Regions from separate parts of the Homo sapiens genome. Here region 1 is linked to region 2. The links come from fine-mapping of genetic effects on gene expression. Tissue or cell type: whole blood. Region 2 holds a variant in brackets; the other region holds the start of a gene. All regions are shown on one strand. Distances are from middle to middle.

Region 1 (8,000 bases), 30 kb after region 2:
TGAGGCAGGAGAATCACTTGAACCTGGGAGGCGGAGGTTGCAGTGAGCCGAGATCGCGCCATTGCACTCCAGCCTGGGCGACAAGAGCGAAACTCTGTCTCAAAAAAAGAAAGAAATTTTCCCTACTTAGGAAAGAAAGAAGACAATTAAAGAAAAACTACCTGGTTGAGTCTCAACTTCTCCTTTGTGGCACTTGGAATGAATATCTGTGCACATCCCCAGCTGGTATCTATCTTTGTCCAGCAGCCTGGGAGCCACAGAGGGTGAATGTGTGTCACTTCCCTCTTTGCTCAAGGCCCAGAGCAGCGCCTGGCAGTGCAAATGCTCTTGGCCAACAGTTGAATGAGTGGGGATCTGGGGGCCTCCGGGGAGGAAACAGTGAACTCTGCCCTACAGAGCTGAGGAAAGGCTTCTCAGAGGAAGTGATATCCAGCCCTGACCTTGAAGAATAAGGAGGGCTGGAGTATATGCAGAGAGGGGGAAGGGTGGAACAGAGAGGTGCCAGGGGAAACTGGATGAGCAAATGCCCAGAGGGAGGAGATTGCTTATGTTGGGTGGCTGGAGCGTAGACTCTGATGGCTGCGTAGAGACAAGTGCTGCTGCGTGGGTCTGATGAGGACATTAAGGCAAGGAAGGCCAAGCACAGTGGCTCACACCTGTCATCCCAGCACCCTGGGAGGCCAAAGTGAGAGAATCACTTGAGGCCAGGAGTTTGAGTCTGGCCTGGGCAGCATAGTGAGATGCCACCTCTACAACAAATTTTAAAAATTAGCCAGGTATGGCCAGACGCGGTAGCTCACTCCTGTAATCCCAGCACTTTGGGAGGCGGAGGTGGGTGGATCACTTGAGGTCAAGAGTTTGAGACCAGCCTAGCTACCATGACGAAACCCCATCTCTACTAAAAGTATAAAAATTAGCCAGACATGGTGGATGTGCCTATAGTGCCAGCTACTCATGAGGCTGAAGCAGCGGAATCCCTTAAACCCAGGAGGCGGAGGTTGCAGCGAGCTGAGATCACCCTGCTTCACACTAGCCTGGGCAACAGAGATTGTGCGGAAAAAAAAAAATTAGCCAGTTATGGTGGTATGCACCTGTAATCTCAGCTACTCAGGAGACCAAAGCAGGAGAATCGCTGGAGCCTAGGAGTTCAAGACCAGCCTGGGCAACATAGTGAGACACCGTGTCTACAAAATATAAAGTTAGCCAGGTGTGATGATGCTGGGCTGTGGTCCCAGCTACTTGGTTGGCTGAGGTGGGAGGACTGCTTGAGCCTGGGAGGTTCAGGCTGCAGTGAGCCGAGATGGTGCCACCACATTCCAGCCTGGGGTGACAGAGCGAGAATCTGTCTCAAAAAAAAAAAAAAGGGGGGAGCCAGGAGCAGTAGCTCATGCCTGTAATCCCAGCACTTTGGGAGGCTGAGGTGGGCGGATCACCTGAGGTCAGGGGTTTGAGACCAGCCTGACCAACATGAAGAAACCCCGTCTCTACTAAAAATACAAAATTAGCCGGGCATGGTGGTGCATGCCTGTAATCCCAGCCACTCGGGAGGCTGAGGCAGGAGATCACTTGAACCCGGGAGGCGGAGGTTGTGGTGAGCCGAGATCGCGCCATTACACTCCAGCCTGGGCAACAAGAGCGAAACTCCGTCTCACAAAAAAAAAAAAAAAAAGAAGGCAAGGAAGGAAGCCAGGAGTTTGTCCTGGGGGGCGCTGGGGAGCCATGGGAGGGCTGAGTGTAGAAGGACCCCTGAGGAATGGGGGGGCAGAGCGTGGGCTGCAGTGGGAGGCTGATGGAGGGTCCTGGCAGGGGAACTGAGGCAGGTGGGCATGACGGGAGAGAGGACAGAACAGCCTGCGGCTGCAGATCCGGCTCACCCTTCCACTCCAGGTTTCCGCGGCCCCTCTCCAGGTGCTCCCGCAGGCGGTGCGGGCAGGAGAATAGCAGGAAGGTGAGCTCCTTGTTGGCCGCCTTGTCCTGCTGCTGCCACCGCTGACTGATAGCCAGGGCCTCGGGCCAGTCCCCACCCCAGGTGCCCTGCTTGAGGTCGAAATTCATGAACTCCTCGCCGTTCAGGGCGAACTTGGCGGTGGGCACCGAGGTGTTGTCAGGGCCCAGTTCACAGCCCAGCAGGCCCTGCAGAGTGTAGGGACCTGGGGCGCCCAAACACAGGTAAGCGGGGCCCCGGAGCATGGACCCGGCCCCTTGCCCCTCCAGACCGGAATCTCACCTTTTCCCCCCAAAGCTTTGAAAGCTTCCAGAAAGAGCTTCTCCTTGATCCTCAGATCTGTGGTCTCTTTCTCCCAATACCAGGACACCTGGTTTTCCCAGACCCAAGCTCCACAGGGCTCCGCCTCGCCCCGCAGGCTATTGTAGCTCAGGTACTGCTGCGGGCCCAGCCAGCCGGACACCCAGAAGGCAGGAGTCCCCGGGGCAGGCGAGGACACCGCGGTAAGGTGGTACAGGAGGGAGAGGTGGCTTTCTGCAGACAGAAACAGAGCTGAAGGGAGCACACGGGCGGGGAACTAGACTGCAGTGGGACAGATACCCAGGGAGGGAGAAGAATCTATTATGGAGGGAGGGGGACAGATTCAGAGAGAGGGGACAGAAACCCGGGGGGGGGGGGACAGAGACCCAGAGAGAGAGAGACAAGAGACCCAGAAAGAGAGGGGGACAGAGACCCAGAGAGAGAGAGGGAAACAGACACAAGAGGCGACAGGTGGTTCCCAGCCTCAGGCCCAGCAGGAGACGTTGAGAAAGTTAATTGAGCGGAGAAGGCAGCGCCAGGGGCTCGCGGGGAACTCGGGTCCCGCTGGCTTCGCCCCTGCCTGCCTGGGGCCGCCTCCCGCCGCCCGCCTGCAGCAGGGCCCTGGCCCGGAGCGGCCCTCACCTGCGCCCAGGCTCCCAGGAAGGAGAAAGAGCAGGAGCCCCAGCGCCCAGGGCTGAGGCCGCGGGACCCCCATGCTGAGAGGACGACCTGGGGCGGGAGGGGGCACGTGACTCCTCCCGACCCCCGGCCCGCCCCTTCCTCCCGGGACACCGCGGGCACGGCCGGGACCAGGACGCCGAGGAGGGGCTCTGCGGGCTCGGTCCAGACTGACAACAATGCCCTCCTCGTACCTGAAGAACTTTCACCCCTGAACTGGATCTCAGTTGGTTAATTAATTACAGACACTTGATAGGCTGAGAGTCCCGGCCCCGAGCTCCGCCACGCCCCTTCCGCCCCCCTCAGGCCCCAGCCCCTCCTCCCTCAGACCCCGGAGTCCAGGCCCCCAACCGCTCTTCCCTCGGACCCAGGAGTCCGGGCCCCCAACCGCTCTACCCTCGGACCCAGGAGTCCGGGCCCCCAACCGCTCTACCCTCGGACCCAGGAGTCCGGGCCCCCAACCCCTCCTCCCTCGGACCCAGGAGTCCAGGCCCCCCCGGCCCCTCCTCCCTCCTCCCTCAGACCCAGCGTCCAGACCCCCAGTCCCTCCTCTCTCAGACCCAGGAATCCAGGCCCCCACCCCTCCTCCCTCAGACCCAGTGTCGAGACCCCCAGCCACTCCTCCCTCAGACCCAGGGTTCCAGGCCCCCAGCCCCTCCTCCCTCAGTCGGGCCCTGGTCGGCTCACGTTCCCTTCAGCCTCGCTCCCTTCCTGCCTGCGGCCCTGGCCGGCTCCTGGCTCCCGTGACTGGAGACCCCAGTTCCTCTCTCACATCCTGTGGGAGGCTGCTGCTCCCTGACTCCAAGAACATCCAGCCCCACCCCCCAGTTGCAGGGCACACCCCAGGCCCTAGGCCCAGCCTGTTTGTTTCTCAAAACGCTTGTGGTTCTTCTTTTTCCTTCTCTGTGGTTCCCGTTTTTTACTTTGAGGGTGTCTGCCGCTCAGGGAATTCTTGACAAAACTGGGAAAGGAACTCGATGCCTCCGGAGTCCACAACTTGGAGGTCTCTGGATCCTCCTCCTACCCCTCTGTATCCCCGTGGCCTTCCCTAGCGCTCGCTGTTAATCAAAATCTTCTGGAAGCCTCCTTAGTTCCTCCTTCAAGCCCTTCCCCCGGCATCCCCTTAAAAAATTCCTGCAGGTGCTCTTTAATATCCTTCTGCGGGCCGGGCGCAGTGACTCACGCCTGTAATCCCAGCACTTTGGGAGGCCAAGGCGGGCGGATCACGAGGTCAGGAGTTCGAGACCAGCCTGGCCAATATGGTGACACCCCCGTCTCTACTAATAATACAAAAATTAGCTGAGCGTGGTGGTGGGCCTGTGGTCCCAGCTACTCGGGAGGCTGAGACAGGAGAATTGCTTGAACCCGGGAGGTGGAGGTCGCAGTGAGCCGAGATTGCACCACTGCACTCCAGACTGGCAACAGAGCGAGACTCCGTCTCAAAAAAAAAAAAAAACCACATCCTTCTGCTAGGACTTCAGTGACCACATGGTCCCCATACAATGCTGCCTCACTCGAAGGCCCCTCCAGGCACCAGCCCCCGCCCACACTCCTGCTACAAAGCTTCCCATACACTTATTTCATTGTGGTAAAATATTCAAAATATTTACCCTTACTGTCATTTAACACATTTACAGTGCTGTGCAACTGTCACCTCTATCCGAGTTCCAGAGCTTTTTTATCACCCCAAACAGAAGGTCTGTCCCCGTTAAACAGCCGCTGCTCCCAGACCCCTGGCAACCATTCATCTGCTTTCTGTCTTGATAGATTTGCCTATTCTGCACATTTCAAAGAAATTGAATCATATAATATGAAGTCTTTCCTTCCTTCCTTCCTTGCCTCCTTCCTTCCTTCCTTCCTTGCCTCCTTCCTTCCTTGCCTCCTTCCTTCCTTCCTTCCTTCCTTCCTTCCTTCCTTCCTTCCTTCCTTCCTTTCCTTTTTTTTGACAGGGTCTGGCTCTGTCACTCAAGCTAGAATGCCGTGGAGCGATCATGGCTCACTGCAGCCTCAACCTCCCAAGCTCAAGCACTCCACCTGCCTTAGCCTCTCAAGGAGCTGGAATTACACACACTTGCCACCAGGCCCAGCTAATTTTTGTATTTTTGCAGAGATAGTGTCTTGCTATGTTTCCCAGGCTGGTCTCAAACTGCTGGGCTCAAGACAGCCTCCCACCTTGGCCTCCCAAAGCACTGGGATGACAGGTGCAAGACACCCATGCCTGGCCTGTTTTCAGCTCTATTGAGCATACATCTGGGAGTGGAACTGCTGGTCAGGTAGTTCAGGTTCTCTAGAGAAACAGAATCCACAGAATGTGTATATGCATACACAGAAAGAGATTCATTTGAGGAATTGGCTTCCAGGATTAGTGGACGTTCAGCTGGTTCAGAGTCTGATGCGGGGGCCAGGTGTGGTGGTGCATGCCTGTCATCCCAGCACTTTGGGAGGCCAAGTTGGGAGGATCGCTTGAGTCCAGGAGTTTGAGACCAACCTGGCCAACATAGGGAGACCCTGTCTCTATTTTTAAAAAAAATTTCAAAAATGTTGGACGCGGTGGCTCAAGCCTGTAATCCCAGCACTTTGGGAGGCCAAGGCGGGCAGATCACGAGGTCATGGTGAAACCCCATCCCTACTAAAAATATAAAAAAATTAGCGAGGCATGGTGGCAGGCGCCTGTAGTCCCAGTTACTCAGGAGGCTGAGGCAAGAGAATGGCGTGAACCCGGGAGGCGGAGCTTGCAGTGAGCTGAGATCCCGCCACTGCCCTCCAGCCTGGGCGACAGAGCAAGACTCCATCTCAAAAAAAAGAAAGAAAGAAAGAAAGAAACCCCAAAGTCTAATGGGGGAGCCAGCAGGTGGGAGACACAATTGCCTAGCAGGACTCCCTCTCCCTCTGGGCAGACTTTTCTTCTTTTTTTTTTTTTTGAGACGCAGTCTCGCTCTGCCATCAGGCTGGAGCGCAATGGCCCGATCTTGGCTCACTGCAACCTCCGCCTCCCGGGTTCAAGCGATTCTCCTGCCTCAGCCTCCCAAGTAGCTGGGATTACAGGCACCTGCCACCACACCCGGTTAATTTTTGTATTTTTAGTAGAGACGGGGATTTCACCATGTTGGCCAGGATGGCCTCGATCTCTTGACCTCGTGATCTGCCCGCCTCAGCCTTCCAAAGTGCTGGGATTATAGGCGTGAGCCACCGCACCCAGCCGAGACTTTTCTTCTATTCAGGGTTTCAAGTGGTTGGATGAGCCTCCCTCAATTCAGGAAGGGGAACCTCCTTTACTCAAAGCCTAACAATCTAAACATAAATCTCAGCTGGGCACAGTGGCTCATGCCTGTAATCCCAGCACTTTGGTAGGCCAAGGCAGGAGGATCGCTTGAGTTCAAGGACCAGCCTGAGTAACAGAGAGAGCTTATCTCTACAAAAAATTAAAATATTAGCCGGGTGTGGTGGTGCGCACTTGTGGTCCCAGCTACTCAAGAGGCTGAAGCTGGGGGACCCCTTGAGCCCAAGAGTTGGAGGCTGCAGTGAGCCGTGATGGCGCCACTGCACTCCAGCCTGGGCAGCAGCAAGACCCTGTCTCACAAATATATATGTAAATCTCATCCTAAAACACCCTCATAGAGACATCCAGAATAATGTTGACCGAATATCTCTTCACTCACTGTGGCTCAGCCAAATTGACACATAAAATTAACCAGGTAAATCTCTGTTCTCCTTGTCCAGAATGTCTTCATTTTTCTCATTCTGCCTGTGTCCTACTGTGTCCTACCTGATTCTCCCTGTGTCCTACTAGAAGGGAGATCCAGTGACACCCATCCCAAGGTCCACTCCTAAGAGACAGAAAGAACCTGCTTTAACTTCTTCTTTTCTTCTTTTCTTTTCTTTTTTTTATTTTTTGAGACAGAGTCTTGCTCTGTCGCCCAGGCTGGAGGGCAGTGGTGCAGTCTCGGCTCACTGCAAGCTGCGCCTCCCAGGTTCACGCCATTCTCCTGCCTCAGCCTCCCGAGTAACTGGGACTACGTGAGCCTGCCACCACGCCTGGCTAATTTTTATATTTTTAGTAGAGACAGGGTTTCACCGTGTTAGCCAGGATGGTCTCGATCTCCTGACCTCGTGATCCGCCCGACTCGGCCTCCCAAAGTGCTGGGAATTACAGGTGTGAGCCACTGCGCCTGGCCACCTGCTTTAATTTCTTAAGAATCCTAATTACAGCACCCTCAGCTCTTCCCCAAAATACCCTGAGGCAACTGCCCTGTCCTTAGCTGTCCCCTCTAGTTTCCTTGGGATCATGTAATGTCTTCAGGACACTATTCCAGCAGCCCCTGGGCCCCATTTTAAGGTTCCTTGGACCCTGACAGAATCCTCAATGCCCTGTTACAGTGTCCCTCAGGAGCCTGCTATGCTTTTCCTGGAAGTCTGACTACCATCACTGTGGGGTCCTCTATAACCCAGCCTTAGCTCTCACGTCCCCACCCCCAGGGCCCTGCTGTAACATTACCAGGACATTCGTAAAGCTCCTTGGACCACCTATGATACTCACAGGTTTTGTGTTCCTTTTTTTTTTTTTTTTTAGATGGAGTCTGGCTCTGTTGCCCAGCTTGGAGTGCACTGGTGCGAACTCGGCTCACTGCAACCTCCGCCTCCCGGGTTCAAGAGATTCTCCTGCCTCAGCCTCCTGAGTAGCTGGGATTACAGGCACCCGCCACCACACCCGGCTAATTTTTGTATTTTTAGTAGAGACGGCGTTTCACCATATTGGCCAGGCTGGTCTCGAACTCCTGACCTCGTGATCCACCCGCCTCGGCCTCCCAAAGTGTTGGGATTACAGGCGTGAACCACCGCACCCAACAATTTTGTGTTCTTTCTGGAGGCTCCAGGGAAGAATCGGTGTTTTTGCCTTTCCCAGCTTCTAGAAGCTACCAGCATTCCTTGGCTCATGGCCCAGTCCTCCATCTTCAAGGCCAGCAGCACGGCATCCTCTCCCCTCTCTGACCCATATGTCGGTCCTCACGTCTTCTCTCTCCGACACCAACCCGCCTGCCTCCCTCTCCAAAGGAGTCCTGTGATTATGTTTAGGGCT
Region 2 (8,000 bases):
GGAGGTCGGGGAGGGCGGATCACCTGAGGTCGGGAGTTCGAGACCAGCCTGGCCAACATGGTGAAACCCCGTCTCTAATAAAAATACAAAAATTAGCCGGGCGTGGTGGTCCATGCCAGTAATCCCAGCTACTCGGGAGGCTGAGACAGGAGAATCACTTCAGCCCGGGAGGTGGAGGTTGCAGTGAGTCAAGATCATGCCATTGCACTCCAGCCAGGATGACAAGAGCAAGACTCCATCTCAAAAAAAAAAAAAAAAAAAAAAAAAAAAAATAGCTATCGGCCAGGCACAATGGCTCAAGCCTGTAATCCCAGCACTTTGGGAGGCTGAGGCAGGTGGATCACCTGAGGTCAGGAGTTCGATACCAGCCTGACCAACATGGAGAAACCCTGTCTCTACTAAAAATACAAAATTAGCCAGGCGTGGTGGTGCATGCCTGTAATCCCAGCTACTCAGGAGGCTGAGGCAGGAGAATCGCTTGAACCTGGGAGGTGGAGGTTGCAGTGAGCCGAGATTGTGCCATTGCACTCCAGCCTGGGCAACAAGAGCAAAACTCTGTCTCAAAAAAAAAAAAAAAAAAAAAGTAAATTTTGAATTGAATTCTATCATGCATAAAAGGGCATACATCACATGTGGAGAACTGAATGAATTTTCATAATCTGACCACCCCTGGGAAGCAGTACCTAGATCAAGAATAGGCTATTTTCCAGCCTCCCTCTCCCGATAAGAAGCCCATGAGGTCCATTCTGGTCCCTCCCCCGCAAGGGTGAACAACATCCTGAGTTCTAACCCCCAGATTAGTTTTGCCTGTTCTTGAATTTCCTTTTTAAAAATTAATTAGTAAATTAATTTTTTTAGTAAGTTAATTTTTTTTTTTGAGACAGAGTCTCGCTCTGTCTCCCAGGCTGGAGTGCAGTGGCGCGATCTCGGCTCACTACAAGCTCCGCCTCCCGGGTTCAGGCCATTCTCCTGCCTCAGCCTCCCGAGTAGCTGGGACTACAGGCGCCCGCCACCATGCCTGGCTAATTTTTTGTATTTTTTAGTAGAGGCGGGGTTTCACCGTGTTAGCCAGGATGGTCTCGATCTACTGACCTCGTGATCTGCCTGCCTCGGCCTCTGAAAGAGCTGGGATTACAGGCGTGAACCACCGTGCCCGGCCATAAACTAATTTTTAAATAGAGATATGGTCTCTATAAATGGCGTGAGCCCGGGAGGTGGAGCTTGCAGTGAGGTGAGAGTGCGCCACTGCACTCCAGCCTGGGCGACAGAGCGAGACTCCGTCTCAAAAAAAAAGAAAGAAAAAAAAAAAGAGATGCCATCTTTATAAAAGATCATCCCAGACTGGTCTTGAACTCCTGGCCTCAAGCAATCCTTGATTAATCCTTGGGATTACAGGCGTGAACCACTGCGCCCAACCCGACTCTTAAATAACTCAAAGCAGTTTATAATCCCTCCTCTGCTCATGACACTCCAGCGACTCTCATGTCACTCAGAATAAATTCTGTGTCTCTCTGGGTCTCTATCCCCATTCTCTTTGGATCTCTGTCCCCCACTCTCTGGGTCTCTGTTTCCCTCTCTCTGAGTTTCTGTCTCCCTCTCTCTGGGTCTCTGTTCCCCTCTCTCTCTCTGGGTCTCTGTTCCCCTCTCTCTCTGGGTCTCTGTTCCCCTCTCTCTCTGGGTCTCTGTCCCTCTCTCTCTGGGTCTCTGTTCCCCTCTCTCTCTGGGTCTCTGTCCCTCTCTCTCTGACTCCCCACCCCTTCTCTCTGGGTCTCTGTCCATCCCTGTCTTGTGCCACCAAACAGGGACCACCATGACCTGCCTGCAGGGGCCTGCACAGTCTGGCCACTTGCCCCATCTGCTCTCAGCTCTGACCCTCTTCCACTGGCTCATTCCCTTCCAGCCACTCTAGCCTCCTTGCTGATGCTGCCACACCAGGCCCACTCCTGCCTCAGGGCCATTTTACTTGCTCTTCTCTCTCCCTGGAATGCTCTCCCTCCAGATCTCTCCGTGGCTCCCTCCTTCACTCCATTTACCATTGAGACCTTTCCCAGCCTCTCAGTCATCAGAACATTGCCACACTGCTACACGCTTCCCCTGCTTCACAGCATCTGTTGCGCCGTGCCATATTTTAGGTCGCTGTGTCTCTTCCTTACAGAACTGGAGCTCTGAGAGGGCAGGGCTTCCTGTCTGGTTTGTGCGCTGCAGAGTCCAGGCTTTTTTTCCCTTTTTTTTTTGAGACAGAGTCTCCCTCTGTCACCCAGGCTGGAGTGCAGTGGCGCCATTTCGGCTCACGACAACCTCCACCTCCCGGGTTCAAGCGATTCTGCTTCAGCCTCCAGAGTAGCTGGGATTATAGGTGCCCATCACCAGGCCTGGTTAATTTTTGTATTTCTAGTAGAGACGGGGTTTCACCATGTTGGCCAGGCTGGTCTAGGACCCCCGACCTCGTGATCTACCCGCCTCAGCCTCCCAAATTGCTGGGCTTACAGGCGTGAGCCACCGGGCCTGGCCCAATTTTTTTTGTTTGTTTGTTTTATACTGAGGAACGCCCTCCAATCCCTCCAACACCCAGCACCCCTCCTTCAAATGCCTGGTCCCCTATTGCATGTCTCAGCCCCCAACTCCCAGTCACAGCCCCCAAACCATCTCCAGGGCCCCCTTACCCTTCATAGAGACAGGCAGACAACAGACAGACACACAAGGTCCCGGCGCTGGCTTTTATTGCCTCCTGGCAGAGAGGAGGTGTCCCAGGCCAGGCCAGGCAGGAGAGGGCTGGGGCCAGGGGAGTTTCAGTCTATGTGGTGGAGGCTCAGATTTGGAGCTGGAGGGGTTGGGGCGGTTCTTAGAGCTGAGCTTGGGGCCAAGGGTCCCTGGGTCTGGGCTGGGAGACTCAGTCAGAAATAGGTATTGCTTATCCTCTGGGACTATGACAGCCCCTCCCTGGGGTTGGGGGTGTGACAGGGACAGAAGCCGACCCAGGGGGTCCCTGAGAGCCCAGGGGCAGGAGGATGCCTGGGACTGCATCTGCCTCCTGCGGGGCCTGGACAGGGAGGGGGCCAGACCACAGCGGCCCCTCCTCCGGTCATTGTGCGGGCCTCTGAGGCTGTGGCAGGTGCGCGGTGCTCACAGCTCATCGTGGTGCCGGGTCAGGTCCTCGCCATAGTTGGTGGCCTGACTGCCCACAAACATGTTCCAATTACCCAGGATTTCCGCTTTGCTCAGCCGCCCATCCTGGAGGGAGGGTCAGGGTTCAGAGGGGACAACACGGCCCTGCTTTCAAAAGCCCTCCCTGCATCCAAGCGTGTCCCGAAGTCTCTGGGACCCTTGTTCTCTGGGCCTCTGTCCCTTTCTCTCTGAATCTGTCCCCGTCTTGGTCCCTGTCCTTCTCTCTTTGGGTCTCTGGGTCTCTGTCCCCCTCTCTTTCTGGGGCTCCGTGCCCTCTCTTTTCCTCCCTCTCTCTGTCCCTCTTTTTTTATCCCACCTAAAAGGGACCCTGAGCTCCAGGCCCAGGTCTTGCTCCTTTCTGGAGTCTGGCCCGCAATGCCCACCCGCTCCTCGCTCCTGCCGAGGCCCCGTCACTGCACCTTGTCCGTGTCGCTCTCGTGCAGCAGGTGGTTGGCTTCCACCAGGGGCTGGTCCTGGGCAGGGGGCAGCACCCAGTGGCCCACCTCACTCCC[A/G]TCCAGGTGCCCATCCTTGTTCAGATCCCGGAAGTCCCGGAACTGCTGCCTCTCCGTCTGCACCCACGCCGGCTCCTCCTCCCCAGGCTCGGCTGAGTACAGATCCGCTGGGGGCCGGGACAGAGGGGACAAGGTCAGGGGCAGCTCTGGGGGTCTAGTGGAGCTGGGGGCTGATCCTGGCTCTGATACTTCCTGAACCAGGCCCTTGAGCAACTCACTACCCTCTCTCTCGCCTCAGCGTCCTCTTCTGTTTCGATGGAATTAGTAACAAAACCTGACTTATAAGCAATCATTTGTGTTACAGGTGAAATTCATTTGATTGGTTGATTGCATGATTGATTGATTTCATTGACACACACGTGAAGTAGTGTGTGCAATGGGCAAGGCAGTGCCTGGCACATAGTAAGCAATGTCTATGCAGGAGGAACGTGCGAGGATGTTTCTGGCCAGTTAGCAGGTGACAGAGATGCCAGGTGCAGTGATGACTGTAATCCAACACTTTGGGAGACCCAGGCAGGAGGGTCATTTGAGGCCAAGATTCAAGACCAACCTGGGCAACATAGCAAGACCCTGTTTCTACAAATTTTTTTTTTTTTTTTTGAGATGGAGTCTCGCTGTGATTACCCCACTGCACTCCAGCCTGGGCAACAGGGCAAGACCCCACCCCCTTTTTTTTTTTAAGATGGAGTTTCGCTCTTGTTGCCCAGGCTGTAGTGCAATGGCGCAATCTCAGCTCACTGCAACCTCTGCCTCCCAGGTTCAAGCGATTCTCCTGCCTCAGCCTCCCAAGTAGCTGGGATTACAGGTGCGTGCCACCACACCCAGCTAATTTTTATATTTTTAGTAGAGGCGGGGTTTCACCATCTTGGCCAGGCTGCTCTCAAACTCCTGACCCCATGATCCACCTGCCTCAGTCTCCCAAAGTGCTGGGATTACAGGCTGGAGTGCAGTGACACAATCTCAGCTCACTGCAACCTGCACCTTCTGGGTTCAAGTGATTCTCCTGCCTCAGCCTCCCAAGTAGCTGGGATTACAGGTACCCGCCACCACGCCCAGCTAATTTTTCTAGTTTTAGTAGAGACAGGGTTTCATCATGTTGGCCAGGCTGGTCTTGAACTCTTGACCTCAAGTGATCCACCCACCTTGGCCTCCTAAAGTGCTGGGAATACAGGCGTGAGCCATGGCACCCACCCCAATTTTATACATTTTGATATGTTACTGGTTGGGGAGGAGTTAAGAAATAGGTGCCAGAGCCCAAACACCAAGGTTCAAATCCTAGCCCTGCCTCTTCCCATTGTCTTCAGCAGATCCCTTCAACCCCCCTGGGCCTCAGGTGTCATCTATATAATGGAGGATAGTGACAGTGTCTGCCTGGTAGAGCTGAGGAATGGAAGATGAAGTCTTAATGGGATGAAGTAATTGAGAAGATAGGCTGGGTGCGGTGGTTCGCGCCTGTAATCCCAGCACTTTGGGAGGCCGAGGCAGGTGGATAACCTGAGGTCAAGAGTTCAAGACCAGCCTGACCAAAATGGTGAAACCCCGTCTCTACTAAAAATACAAAATTAGCCAGGCGTGGTAGTGCACGCCCATAATCCCACCTACTCAGGAGGCTGAAACAAGAGAATTGCTTGAACCTGGGAGGCGGAGGTTGCAGTGAGCCGAGATCATGCCACTGCACTCCAGCCTGGGCGACAATAGCGAGACTCTGTCTCAAAAAAAAAAAAAAAGAGATGGGGACAGCTGCTGGCATCTGGGGCCTGTGACCTCCTTGTTGTCAGGGCCTGTCCTGTGCACCGGAGAATGCTAAGGAGCATCTCTGGGCTCTATCCAGGAGACGTCAGTAGCATCCTCACCCCTCTAGAAGTGACAACCAGAAGTATCTCCAGAGGCCGCACTGTGCCTGGAGTCTCAGCTACTTGGGAGGCTGAGGTGGGAGGATCCCTTGAGCCCAGGAGGTCAAGGCTGCAGTGAGCCAAGATCACCCCACTGCACTCCAGCCTGGGCGACAGGGCAAGACCCCATCTTTTTTTTTTTTTTTTAAGATGGAGTTTCGCTCTTGTTGCCCAGACTGAAGTGCAATGGCGCGATTACAGCTCACTGCAACCTTTGCCTCCCGGGTTCCAGAGATTCTCTTGCCTCAGTCCCCAGAGTAACTGGGATTACAGGCTCCTGCCAACAGGCCCGGCTAATTTTTGTATTTTTAGTACACCATCTTGGCCAGGCTGGTCTCGAACTCCTGACTTCATGATCCATCCATCTCAGCCTCCCAAAGTGCTGGGATTACAGGTATGAGCCACTGCGCCTGGCCCAACCCCATCTCTTAAGAAAAAAATATAAAAATGTTCTCTCAGCCAGGTGTGGTGATTCATGCCTGTAATCTCAGCTCTTTGGGAGGCCAAGGTGGGAAGATTGCTTGAGCCCAGGAGTTCTAGACCAGCCTGGACAATATAGTGAGAACCCATCTCTATTTAATAAAGAGAGAGACACACACACACACAGACAGACAGATAGAAAGAAAGAGTGACAGAAAGAAAGAAAGTGAGAGAAGGAAAGAAAGAAAAATGTTTTCTCATGTAGGATGTGGTCAGAAAAAAATAAAAGAATAAACAATGTTTTCAAACTTAAAAAAAAATTCCTGGCCGGGCGTGGTTGCTCACGCCTGTAATCCCACCACTTTGGGAGGCCAAGATGAGCAGATCACCTGAGGTTGGGAGTTCTAGACCAGCCTGGCCAACATGGTGAAATCCCATCTCCACTAAAAATACAAAAATTAGCCAGGCGTGGTGGCAGGCACCAGTAATCCCAGCTACTCAGGAGGCTGAGGCAGAAGAATCTCTTGAGCCCGGGAGGCGGAGGTTGCAGAGAGCCGATACCACGCCACCGCGCTCCAGCCTGAGCAACAGAAAAAAACTGTCTCAAAAAAAAAAAAAAAAAAAAAAAATTCCTTGTTAGCGTTCTCCTTGACTAAATTTTTTGCCCGCTAGGGGCAGGGACAGTGGCAGGGGCCCAGGGAGAACTCAGAACTCAGGGGGTATTGTGAGGATCCCCCAACATCCCATGTAACAGGAAACAGTGTTTGCTGTGCAGGCGCAGGTTCAAGACCAGCTTCCTGACCCCCATTCTCAACTAAACATAGCCCCTGAGCCTTGATTTTGTAGAAACTCCAGACCCCCAAGAAGGGATTTGTCTGTGTTATTGTCTGCTGTAGGCGCAACCACCCATATGCAGTAGGTGCTCAGTAAGTGTATCCTGGGCGTGACACACAGCAGGTGCTCAATAGATGCTTTTTGTGTCTGGTATAGAGTAGGTGCTCAATAAATGTTGGGTGGCTAAATGAACTCAAGCAGTGAGTGCCCCTGCCCCCATGTCTGAGGGCCACTGTTCTCTGATGATGGGTGATGTACCTCCGGCTACCCCCACCAACCCTGCCCATGCCTGAGAGAGGACAGGCATCCCAAGAAGAAATTGGGGCCCACTCACCGATGTACTCCTCCACCTGGACATAGCCATCTTTGTTTCTGTCCAGGTCCTCCAGGGTTTCCTGGAGGAGAAAGGGGCATTGAGGCTGGGGGCCGATGACCCTGGCTCCTGGGGGAGGCTGGACCCCTGGGGTAAGAGTGAGAGGTTCTCTTGGAAATTTAGCTCCGGGCAGCTGTGGGAGGCAGGCAGTAGAGCAGTCTCAACAGGTGGCATGTGGGAAATTTGCGGGCTTTCTGGGATGTTATCATCAAACAGGCACCACCTGCATTTACGGGGCCAGAGCCCAGAGGCCCTAATGTCCAGCAGTGCACAGGTTTGTTGCTCACAAGGGGAGCTGTCCTGGGTCCCTAATAACTTGCTCAAGCCCCAGCAAACACCCTCCAAGGGGAGAAGCTCCTTTATGTTTAGCAGAGCCTAGAACCTACCTCTGCTTTATGTGTGAACATGGTGCACTTTGGGGCTTCTTCTGACACACTGGACACCTCCGCTCCTTGTTTTTGTGCCCTTCTGGAGCAAAACGACTTTTGTTCCCCAATTTATATCCAAACTCATTCACTATAAGACTGTGGGCTGGGCACGGTGGCTCACACCTGTAATCCCAGCACTTTGGGAGGCCGAGGCGGGAGGATCGATTGAGCCCAGGATTTTGAGACTAGCCTGGGCAACATGGCGAGACCCTGTCTCTACACAAAATTTAAAAATTAGCCAGGCATGGCCGGGCGTGGTGGCTCACAACTGTAATCCCAGCACTTTGGAAGGCCGAGGTGGGTGGATCACGAGGTCAGGAGATCGAGACCATCCTGGCTAACACAGTGAAACCCCGTCTCTACTAAAAAAAAAAAA

Evidence for each region. PIP is the estimated chance that this variant, and not a neighbour inherited with it, causes the effect.
Region 1: FCGRT starts here. The variant in region 2 is fine-mapped to the expression of FCGRT in whole blood (TOPMed, PIP above 0.99).

Annotation. Positions count from the first base shown.
Region 1 is chr19:49,508,361-49,516,360 of GRCh38, reverse strand. FCGRT (Fc gamma receptor and transporter) reads right to left here and starts at 3,700. Exons shown (of 7, transcript NM_001136019.3): 1 at 3,611-3,700; 2 at 2,888-2,974; 3 at 2,228-2,479; 4 at 1,875-2,150. The coding sequence starts at 2,960. RefSeq lists enhancers at 1,477-2,190, 4,118-4,680.
Region 2 is chr19:49,538,337-49,546,336 of GRCh38, reverse strand. RCN3 (reticulocalbin 3) reads right to left here. Exons shown (of 7, transcript NM_020650.3): 5 at 7,158-7,218; 6 at 3,585-3,784; 7 at 2,704-3,231. The coding sequence ends at 3,124. Among named protein-coding and RNA genes, the nearest start is that of RCN3, 14 kb to the right of the region's middle. The variant A/G (reference allele first, on the strand shown) is at 3,678.